2 separate regions of the Homo sapiens genome follow, and region 2 is linked to region 1. Evidence: fine-mapped expression QTL. A gene starts in region 1. The other region holds a variant in brackets. All regions are shown on one strand. Distances are from middle to middle.

Region 1 (5,360 bases):
AGGCTGCGCAGCTCCCGGGGGATGTTTCTGTGGAAGGCAGGCTCACCTTGTGCCACCCCAAACAGGGTCTTGGATCTGAGAGGCAATGTTTCTGCTCCAGCCCCTCAAAGACACTCTTTGGATGTTGTGGGGGGAAGCCCTCTGCAGCGGGTGGGGTTCAGAGATGGATTGGGATTGGCCCCGGGGTCACACAGCTGGGGCTGCATCCAAACTCCAACCCAGGATGTTGGGCTCCTCCTTTGCCCTATAGTCAGAGAGAAGAGACCAAGAGAAGACAGAGGCTGGGCATTGTGAAGGCAATGGGCTCACAGGGCTCAGTTCAGGGAAGGGTAGAGTGAGCTGACCCCTCCCCTTCCCGTGCCCCTCCTCCGGCCTCAGCCTCCCTTCAGCCAGTCTGGGTGCCGAGGAAGGGCTGACCCTCGCTCTTGCGGATTAGGTAGGATCCACCCTCTCCACCGGGAGCCCTATCCGTGGCCTGGCCTCCTGCCCTAAGCCTGGCCTGATAGGAGGATCACTTTACCCCAGTCCAAATTCCCCACCACACCCCACCAGGCCAGGCCAGCTCCCTCTGAACCCAAGCATTGTTTGTACCTTGAGGGTGCACACAGATTAAAGGGGGAAGACCCTCAAACAGCCCCTAATGCCCAACAGCTTCTGTGGAAGTGGGGCCTGCAGGCCATGAAGACCCCCAGCCCTAGCTCTGCCCCCAAGATGCTGTGACCCTGAGCCCTGACCTTTCTGTCTGTCCTCCCTCAGGGTTGGTGTGAAGGTCTCCAGCCATGTCCGTGTCCACAGGTCAGGCATTCTTTCTGACTCTCCCTCTTCCCCCCACCGCGCCATGCCCAGGCACACCCAGATTCCTGTCCAGTTCCCATGGCTATCCACCCGAGACCACTTGGTGCAGGTGGGCATGCTGGCCTGCCACCTTCTTGGAAGCTGGGCCACAGAACCTTAGCCTTGGAGTAGAAATACTGGGTTCAAATCCTGGCTCTGCCCCATGGGCTGAGAGGCTGTATGCAAGTCACTTACCTGCTCAGAGCCTCTTCAGGGGGCTTATGGTCCTGACCTCCTGTGGTTGGGGGCCCATGCCCAGCCCTGGCCCTCCTGCCTGAGCCCTACTGGGACTGGAGTGTACCACTGCTCCTCCTCCTTCTAGCCTCAGTCTGTGGCCTCCCCAGCCCTACCCCTTCCAGGGCCCCAGCCCCCCTCCATTAGAGTGCATCCTTGAAGCAGAGGCTCTGGGGAGGGTCCTGTGGGTCAAGACCGCTCCTTCAATCAAGGGTAGAGTCCGGAAAGGCTGCCTGCCTTCACCATTACTGCCTGCTGAGATACCCTATTACCATTACCAAGGATGGAAGAAAGTGTCTGGGAAGGAAGGAGCCCTGTAATGGGGGCTGCCCTGGCCTCCAGAGACACAGGGTTGGGGGAGGAGAGAGGCTTAAGCCCAGGAAACAGGTGCCCATCCTGTTTTTTTCCACAAGGAGCTGCTGCCCAATGCTTCTCTAAAGTACGCTTGCACAAGGCCTAGGGCCCACAGCTCAGATCCCCTAAGCTCAGGCCTTGGCTCCAGGCTTTGCTAGCCCTGGCACAAGCTGGAGGTTCCACTGCCCCAGAGCTGACCTATGCCCTTTCCTCCCTCCCTGGTATACCCACAGCTTCCAGCTACTCATGTCAATTTGGCATCTCCCACCCATTTGCTTATGTATACAACAACCTTTAGGTTCTGGACAAGGTGACTGAGGCACCTAGAGAGACTAGGTTCTGCCACTAGCAAGAGGCTGCTAGCAAGAGCCGGATTTGAACTCCAGCCTGTGAGGGCAGAGGCCAAGCTCCACCTTGCATGGTTCTGTTTTCCCAATGAGGTCTAGAGGCTCCTGGGCCTCAGGAAGTCGGAGGGTTGAAATCCTCCTAAGAAGCTGTGTGACCTTGGGCAAGTCCCTTCCCCTCTCTGGGCCTCAAGTGGAGATCATAATCACACCCCACAGGGCCAGGGCTGAGAGCGAGGAGATCCGCCAGGTTAGAGTTGATGGAGAACTTGGCGGGGTGTGGAGGAAGGCCAGGGCCAGGCAGGGCTCCTTGTGGAGGTCTCAGAGCCTGGGGCAAAGGGGCCTGCAGGGGAGCTCCTCCTTTGCTGACCCCTCCTCCCCCAGAGCCAGCTGCATCTCTTTCTGGGTTTCTAGGTGACTTGGCTGGCCCCTCTGGATGAGTTCTACTTTAAACCTGCTGCTGTTACTGCCTCTGTATTGGGGGGGCTCCCACAGGGGCCCCCAGGCAGGAACCCCCCCCACCAGCTAAGCCCTGCGGGAGGGGCTGCAGCCCCCACCCATCCCATTGCCCATGCGCCTTCCCCGCTCCCATCTCTGGAACGCAGATTTCAGGGCACCTGCTGTGGGCCAGGCACTGCAGAGCCCCTCCTCAACCCTCCTGTCTGGGGACATCCACAAAGCTTCTGACCCCTCTGGGCAGACAACAGCGTTCCCCCCGCGGTTCCCAGCCAAGAGGCTCACAGTCAGGTTCCAGTCATGGGAGTCTGCAGCAACAAGAAGGGGGCTGTTCTAGGGCTCACTCTCGAAGACCAGGATGCTTGGGTCCTTAAAGGAGGTGGCAGGCGCCCGGCCTCCCTGGGCTAGGGACGGGGGAGGGGTGCCTGCCGGCGGGAGGTCCATTAGCCGGCTAAGTGCTCCCAGGGAGGGGGGACCGCGCGGCATAAGAGTGGGTGAGGCGAAGCCAGGGCAGAGGGGGGCGGAAGAAGCTTTTCCTGCATTCAGCTAAGTGCGGCAGAAGAGGGTGGGCGACAGGGCTGTGCAGCGACCCCCCGGCCCAAGTCTAGCCCTCCGCTGGTACTGCAGCCCTAGTCGCTCGGAAACCTCAGTGGGCTGATCCCGGACCGCCTTAAGCAGCGCCCTCTACACCCAGTCCCTCCAGCTGCTCCCCAACAGCCACTTCGGCCCCCAGCGCCCTCCTTCCACCACAGGCCTGAAGAATCAGGTTCTGCTGAGCCCCGCAGCAAAGCCCCCGACCCGTCCGCGTGCCCCTGCCCCAATCCCCGCTCCGGCTGCAGTCGCCGCCCCGGCCGCCAGGGGGAGCCGACGCGGTGGGAGGGGGCGGGGCCCGGGAGGCCCCGCCCCGTCCCCGCCCCGCCCGGGCCCCGCCGAGGCTCTGGTCGGTCCGGGACAGACTGGCGGGCGGGCGGGCACTGACGCCGCGGGGCCGGAGCGGGCCGCGCGGTGGGAGCAGCGGCGCCGTCGGTCCCCGTCAGGGCTCCGTGGGTCCCCGACCCGCCCCTGGCCGGGCCATGGCGGGCGCCCAGCCCGGCGTCCACGCGCTGCAGTTGGAGCCGCCCACCGTGGTGGAGACCCTGCGGCGCGGGAGTAAGTTCATCAAATGGGACGAGGTAAGCGCGCGGGCCCCTGCTCCGCCCAAATCCCGGGACTCTTTCAGTCAAGCTCGACCAGACGCTGGGGACCCCCACCCCAGCCTCGCCTGCCCGTGGCGCCACCCTCATCCCAGTCTGGCGGCGCCCCGGAAACTTAAGTCCCCGATCGTCTCCGTAATGAAGACTTTGTCCCCCCAACTCCCAGTCCCTCAGCTCTGGAAAATTTGCCTCCACTCCTTGGCGCAGAGACTTTGAACCCCAATAAACCCCGTCCCCCCGTTTTCCATTCGTTCTTCCCACCGCTCCCTGCCAGACTAATTCTCGTTCCCCGATCCTGGCCTGGTGCCCAGACCCCTGCCCAGCACTAGACTCCCCGGCTGCAGGACCCTGACTTCCAGGCTGGCTGGGGGCATCCTCATTCTGGGTGTGTGCCAGGGCGCCCCTACTCTCCCCGGTGCCCTGCCTGAACAGTCCTCGTCCATTCATCATTTTTCCCCCTGTTCTGGTTGGCACCCCTTCGCCCTGCTTCTGGATCCCAGCCCAGCTCCCTGTTCAGATGGGAGCACCCAGTCACCCCCTAGTGGAGACTTTGCCCCCCAAGTTCCTCCACCCCTGGGAACTTTGCTCCCCACTCCTTAGGCTTGGGACCTTGAACCCCAATACATCCTGGCCCCCCTTTCCCTGTCCTGCCCCTGGTGCTTCCCAAATGCCTGTGTCCCCACCTTCGGCTGCCCATCCCCATCCTGGGTGCATCCTCTTCTGCCCCCTGGGCCCTTCCTTCCCTAGGGCCTCCACCCGGCCGGCCTGAGCTTCCTCGCAGCTCCTTCCCAGTCAGGCCACGGGCCTGGAAGACTCTGGGCTCTTTTCCGGCTGGGTGGGGCCCCGGGGTAGGCGTGGGAGCTGGGGGGAGGAGATGGGGGCGTGGCCTGAAGCGGCAGGTGTGCGAGGTGGGGTGCCTGGGGGCCCCAGGGGCCGGGGGAGACCCCTCCCCCCAGGCTGGCCTGAAGGGAAAAGTTTCTTCTTTTCATTCCACTGTGATAAACCCAAATAAGGAAGTGGGAACAGGGAGAGGGCCCTGGGGGTGGGGTGGGGGGTGCTGACGGAGGCTTGGGGCAGGAGAGCAGGGGACCTGGGCTGCCTTTGAGGTCCAGACCCCTGGGGAGAGGTGGGAGGGAAACACTAGGGGCAGTACCCATAGACTCCCCGCTCTGCACACCATTCGGGGGCCTCAGGCCCAGGGTAGGGTTGGGAATCCGGAGAAGTGCTGGGGCTGGGTGTCAGCACACTGAAGTGGGGAGGCCCATGCATCCCCAAATTTTGGGGGCCTTCTGTTCCCAGATGAACGCCCATCTTTTGTAAGCAAAGCCTGCCATGGGTGGGGCTGGTGCAATCCCCATTCTCCAGAAGAGGAAACTGAGGTCTGGAAAGCAGAGAGTTATCCCAGGCCCCACAATGGGGTGTGGCTGAGGCCAGGAGCCGGGAGCCTGGCAGAAGTCTCCGCTCCCTGCTTCCCAGGTCACAGGACGCTGCAACCACACTGCCTGCAAGCAGGTCCTGGCTCCAGTGATCTCGGGCAGGCTACGAAGTGTCCCTGTAACTCAGTGTCCTCATCTGTAAAATGGGAGTGACAACAGCACATGCCTCTTAGGCTGGTTAGGAGGCCTTTGTGTGCTCGAAGATGCTAGGTGCATAGAACTGTACCTGGTGCGCAGTAGGGGCGGTGTGCGTATATGAGATGTATTGATAATAATAGTATTGTCCACCAGACACTGAGATGCATTTTGGGGGTGGCACCCAACATGAGGTGGGGTCCTTTTCTGTCTGGAAGAACCTGGAATAGGAGGGTTCTACCTGTAGCCACTTGTTCACTCTGGCCCTGGCCGAGTCTAAGCCCTGGAGGACAGCCCCTCTGGCTGCTGGTCCTGAGTCACACAGGGTGGCCCTGGTAGTGTGCCAGGGACCGGGCCCTTCTTAGAAAATGGGG
Region 2 (5,360 bases), 120 kb before region 1:
AGACTCCGAGGGGTCTCTACATGGAGAAGTATGTGTCAGCAGGAGCTATGGGTTATCCTGGAAGAGGCTCCAGCAACCAAGTGGCTCCGGGGTAAAAGTGGGACTGTCCGGGTGTTTGGGGACATGAGCTTATGCCACCACCCCAGACGCCCCCCATCCCCTAGATGTACCCATTACACTCACAGCTCTGGAGCCTCATCTGCCTCTCTCACATCCCAAAGGGAGGGGGACAGGAAGGAACAAAATTTCCATGAGAACAATAGCAGTCTCTGCTAAATTTAACATAAAACAAGAACTCATTACTTCTGCCTGAGATCTGATTTCATGTCTGGATACAGTTAACGGGTTTTTCCTTATATTCCAAAGAAGCAAAGTTAATTCTCAGTGGCCGGTGGCCCTGAGTGGGGTGACGTGGGCCCCACAGGTGCTCTCTGCCCCACCCTCCTCCTCCATCCTCACCTCCTGTCCTGCCAGGGCAGGAGCAGCCCAAGAGAGACCACTCTAAGGTGTGGCACACAGTGTGACCACCCAGGAAAGGACCCAGGCTGTTCTTCCAACTTCTCCCTGAGACCCAGCGCACAGTGGGTGCCCAGGAGGGGTGCCCACTCCCTCACCTGAGACCCATTCTCTGGGGCTGTCGAGGGCTCTTTCTGGAACACAGTCAGCCAGCCAGCCAGCCAGGAGATATTGACTGAGGGCCTGCTATGCTCTGGGGCTGGTGTATTCCTGCCTCATGGAGGAGTGAGGAATCTACGTGGCTGAGTCAGGGCCTAGCCTGGGTGGGGCTGGGGAGGCTCTGTGGGGAACCAGATTTCCACAGAGGACGCTTCCACGGATAAGGAGGACTAGGAGGCAATGGGGAAGGCCTGGCACGCCGCCCGCCTGAGGTAGACAGGAGGGCAGGTCCACTTCTGCGCCCCACTCAGGAAGGCCCTGTGTCCCCCCATCTCCCCGTTGCCCCCCTCAGACTCCAGCCTCAGTGCAGCCCCACCCTCTGCCCTCCACGCCTGACACCCCCCAGGCCCAGTGTGGCTTAGACTTCAGGTCTATGCTGCACTGGTTTCCCACGCCTCTGCTGGCCTTTCTCACCTGCACAGGTGACCCCTTCCCACGCCTCGCTTGGCTGAGCCCAGACTGGCAGCTCTTGCCCTCCACACCTCCAGATCCCCAGAGGGCACTTGTCTGGCACCAGGAGGCCCCGTAAACAGGAATGAAGAGTGAGTCGATAAACAGTAAATCAATCAGCCAATCACTCCATGGATCCATGTGAGTACAAGGAGGATGATTCTCCAAGCACAACAGCCCTTGCCAACCCCAGTGAACCCACCCTTCCCCAGGAAGTCCTGCTCCCGGCTTTACCTCACCCTCCCCACGTGTGGCAGCGCCACAAATCTGGGGACACCTGTGGAGCCCTCGAAGCTAGGGAAGAAGGGCTGTGTTCTCAAACTGTGTTCCTCAGCCCCTGGAGCTAACACAGGTGTTGCCCAGAAAGGGTTCCCGGTCACAGGCCTTTGGGAACCACTGGATTAACACCACTGCTCTCCTGGGGCAGGGCCTTGGAGTCCCTGGGTATTGGGTTAGACCCATGGGCTCCGCCAGTTACCACATGTGCTACTCATCCTCTCTGTGCCTCAGTTTCCACCTCCATGCGTACATGATAACAGCTCCATCCCCGACTGCTGTTGGGAGGGTGAGGTGGGACGACACAGGTAATGCCACTGGGAGTGCCCAGCTCAGAAACCACCCGCACCAACCCTACGGCTGTGACGGAGCCTCTGTGAGAGGGCGTGGGAGGCCGGGTTGCCTACAGTTTGTCTGGGGAGTGTAGGCCTCCCCCACCCCCAGCACAGCCTCCTGGGGGGTTTCTCCCGCATTCCTGGCCCCCAGGGATGGAGCCAGGTGCTGAGCTGGTTGGCACTTCTTGCAGGGAGGCCCAGGTTCTTGGCAGGACCTTTGGACCCAGGCAGCAAAGTGCCCCCAGGTCCAGCACAGAGAGGCAACCGTACAGGGTGGGGCCTGTTCCCCAAACCACCCCCACAACAATCCCAGGTCCACGGCCTGCTGAAGAGGATGACAGGCTGGCTGCAGCCTTAGGCTTCAGGATTGGGGGTGGGTGTGGGGGACATCTCAGGTTTTAATACGCGCCCCAGGGGAGTTGGAGGCTCAGCCAGGTTTGGGCCGCACAGGAGGGAATTGCCAGGAC[C/G]TGCATTTCAGGAATGAAAGGAAAACCCTCCAAACATAACCTGTTCTGAAGAGGACCGGGTGGTTGGGGGGCCGTGAGCCTCCCGTTCTTACAGGAAAGCAAGCAGGACTGGCCAGTGCCTCAAAGGCACTGCAGGGGACCTGCTGGCCCCAAAGAGCCCTGACACCATGTCTTCAGCTGGATGCCAGGAGATGGGGTGGTCCCCCGAGAAACCTACCCCACACCACTGCTGCAGCCCCCCACCGTGCCACCCTCCAGCCAAGCCACTTTGGGCCCTTTCCTTCCCCACAAATCTCTCAGGACTTGCATTATCACTGAGATTAGGGGCACGTGTGGGTAAGACCCCCGAATGGCTGCCCTGCGGCCAAGAGGCACCTTAAGTCCCGGGGCTCCGGCTTTGTGTATCTGACTCCGTCTGTTTTGTCAGACTCAGGACTAAAAAGCTCCTGCTCAAATGAGAGAGAGAGAGTGGGTGATACCTACCCCTCCATGGCTGCTTTCCTGTACCTGGAAACTGCCCTTACCTGGCTACCACTGGGTTCTGGAAGCTTCCCTTCTCCTGCCCCTACTTCCCAGGAGGGGTCTCTGGCCTCACCGAGCAACCTGAAGAAGAGGCGTCGGAACCTGGGAGGGGTCTAACACCCCAGGCCACACCCCCACACCCAAGTTCTGTGGCTGAGTCTTATCACCCAGCCTAGGAGGGTCCCGGACGCATGGGAGGGCACCCAGCTGGCCCTGAAATTCTGCCTCCGTGGGTCTGACATTGGCTCATCCACTTTCAGGCACCCCAAATAAGGCATGCTTCCAGGACCCCCCCACACATGCCGCTGCCTCCCCGCCGCCGCACCCACGTCACCTTCCAGTGCTGACACTGCCACCTCCCCACCCGCCACCCTGTCCAGCACCTCCAGAGGACCTTCTCCTCCTGCGGCAAAGTAAACAGGCTCTCTGGAGTGCTAACTGACAGCACAAATGAAATCCTGCACTCCCTCCCTCTAAGATTTACAGGGGAAGTGAAATCTTATTTGCAATGCTGCCAAGCCTGGGACGAGATGAAATTATGCCTCAAGAAGAGAACTGGCCGGCCCGGCGAGGAAGCACTGCATCGGAGATGGGCTTATTAAAACCACAGTGGCCACATTTCAACCTGTTTCAGGTGTTAAGTAATTTACTGCCACCCAGAATTCAGTGGCAGGTTTTTATCATTTTTATTCTTGTGATGCAGGCGAGTGCCCCAGGAGGTCCCTGTGCAGGGAGCTGCGGGTCTAAATGCTCCCTGTCACCCCCGCCCCAGGCACTGCAGAGGGAAATGGGGGCCAGCTGCCTGAAGCGGGTGAGGACACCCTGACTCTCTCCAGGGTTACACCCAGCTTGGCCATAGCTCAGAGTGACGGGGAGGGCAGGCTTTAAGACCCTCACCCCACCCACGTGTGGGGGCTCCATGATCCCTCAAAGACCCTCGGGACGTTTTCTTTTTTTTGATGGAGTCTCGCTCTGTCACCCAGGCTGGTGTACAGTGAGGTGATCTCGGCAGCTTCCGCCTCCCAGGTTCAAGCGATTCTCCTGCCTCAGCCTCCCAAGTAGCTGCGTGTACAGGCGTGTGCTACCACGCCCAGCTAATTTTTGTATTTTTACTAGAGATGGGGTTTCTCCATGTTGGCCAGGCTGGTCTTGAACTCCCAACTTCAATGATCCACCCGCATCGGCCTCCCAAAGTGCTGGGATTACAGGAGTGAGCCACCGCGCCCAGCCCCTCAGGATGTTTTCTGAAGGCAGCAGGAATGTAAGCTCTCTGGGAGCAGAGACTACCCTGTTTCAGGCTGTGACTACCAACCAAGCCTTTATTGAGCACCTACTGCATGCCAGGCCCTGTTCAGATGGGGAACATGCAGCAAATGGGACCGAGAGCCCCCTGCCCTGTGGAGCTCACGTGCTGCCTGCCGGTAAGTGTTGAGTAAATATTTGTGGTTGGTTGATGAAAATCTCCTACAGGCAAACAGGCCCTTGAAAGAAAAGAAGCTGAGGAGGGGGGCAGGGGGAACCGGAGGGAAGTGAGTGGCGGGAGGGAGGGGCGCACTTGACTGAGCATCTGCTACATGCCAGTCATCACAGTGACTGCTGGCAGCCCTGGAAGTGGGGCCTCCCCATGCCGGAGCTGCTGGGGCCAGGTCTCTGCACCTTCCCCTGCTCTGGAGAACTATGCAGAAATGGCTGATACTCCGTCTGAACTCATGAGGAACACAGTCTCCTATTCATGGGGAGCTGGGGACAAGGGGACCTACAGTCTGGGATGTGGTTAGGAACAGCCCCACGTCCTCCAAGCTCTCGAGCCCTTTCTCAGTGGTCCCGGGAGGAGAGCTGTTTGATGCCTGCTGGCTTTGGGGGGATTAAGCCTATTATGGAGGCTCCCGGGGCTTATCTGATGCCTTTCTCCACCTGTTTTCAGATATTCCAGGAAGACCAAGGGGAATCTTCTATGTCCAGGCTGAGCCAAGAGCAGAAATTCTTTAATTAGCTTTCTCCTGGATCAGGGCCCTGGCGGATGGATTGGTCACTGGGGGTGGGGCGGGGGGAGGGGAAAGGGATTGAAGTCCTCTTTAAAGCAGAGATTACAAACCCAGGGTGAAGGGCTTCAGGGCAGTTGCCAGGGACGGGCGGGTCCTGAGCAGGCCCTCCCCAGTCAGCGGCTCCTCGGGGTCTGGCAGATGGAATCTGCCACCAGGAAGATGCAGGGATGTGCTCTATTGAGCCCGCGGTCCTCAGGAAGCTGGCACAGAGAGATGCTTGGCACAGTCCAGGCTGTGTGCCCGGGTCTCCTAATGAATGTGGCTCTTCCCCATGTGACCATCCAGATCTGTAACTTCATAATTAGGGGGGATTTCCTGAAGGGGCGCCCATCTGCGAGAGGCAAGGCAGCGGGGGCCAGTGGTGCCAGGCGCCAGGCATCTGTCACCGAGCTTCATCCTCACGGCAGGGAGGTGCGGCAGGCTGGCTTACTCCCATTTTAAAACCAGCAAACCAAGGCCCAGATCTAAGCAGCTTGCCCAAGGCAATGGTGACGGAGTTAGCTCTGGAACCAGGTCTGTCCGGGTTCCCCCCACTGCCCCGAGTCCTGGCCCCATGAGGCCTCATGAAGAGACCAGGCTGAGGGTCAGTG

Direction of the effects. Alleles are on the strand shown, and positions count from the first base shown. SD is a standard deviation of normalised expression in the study named.
With allele C in place of G in region 2, the expression in tibial artery of the gene that starts at base 3,176 in region 1 is lower (moderate effect, 0.52 SD a copy in GTEx).

What was found. PIP is the estimated chance that this variant, and not a neighbour inherited with it, causes the effect. A credible set is the group of variants that fine-mapping cannot tell apart.
Region 2: its variant is the best candidate, but not a certain one, in a credible set for the expression of PLCB3 in tibial artery (GTEx, PIP 0.70).

Annotation. Positions count from the first base shown.
Region 1 is chr11:64,248,355-64,253,714 of GRCh38, forward strand. PLCB3 (phospholipase C beta 3) reads left to right here and starts at 3,176. Exons shown (of 31, transcript NM_000932.5): 1 at 3,176-3,394. The coding sequence starts at 3,296. RefSeq lists enhancers at 27-674, 675-1,320, 1,321-1,968, 3,263-3,908, 3,909-4,555 and silencers at 2,988-3,457, 3,945-4,158.
Region 2 is chr11:64,127,671-64,133,030 of GRCh38, forward strand. All of the region lies in intron 3 of MACROD1 (mono-ADP ribosylhydrolase 1), which reads right to left. Among named protein-coding and RNA genes, the nearest start is that of MACROD1, 36 kb to the right of the region's middle. RefSeq lists an enhancer at 1,807-2,400. The variant C/G (reference allele first, on the strand shown) is at 2,204.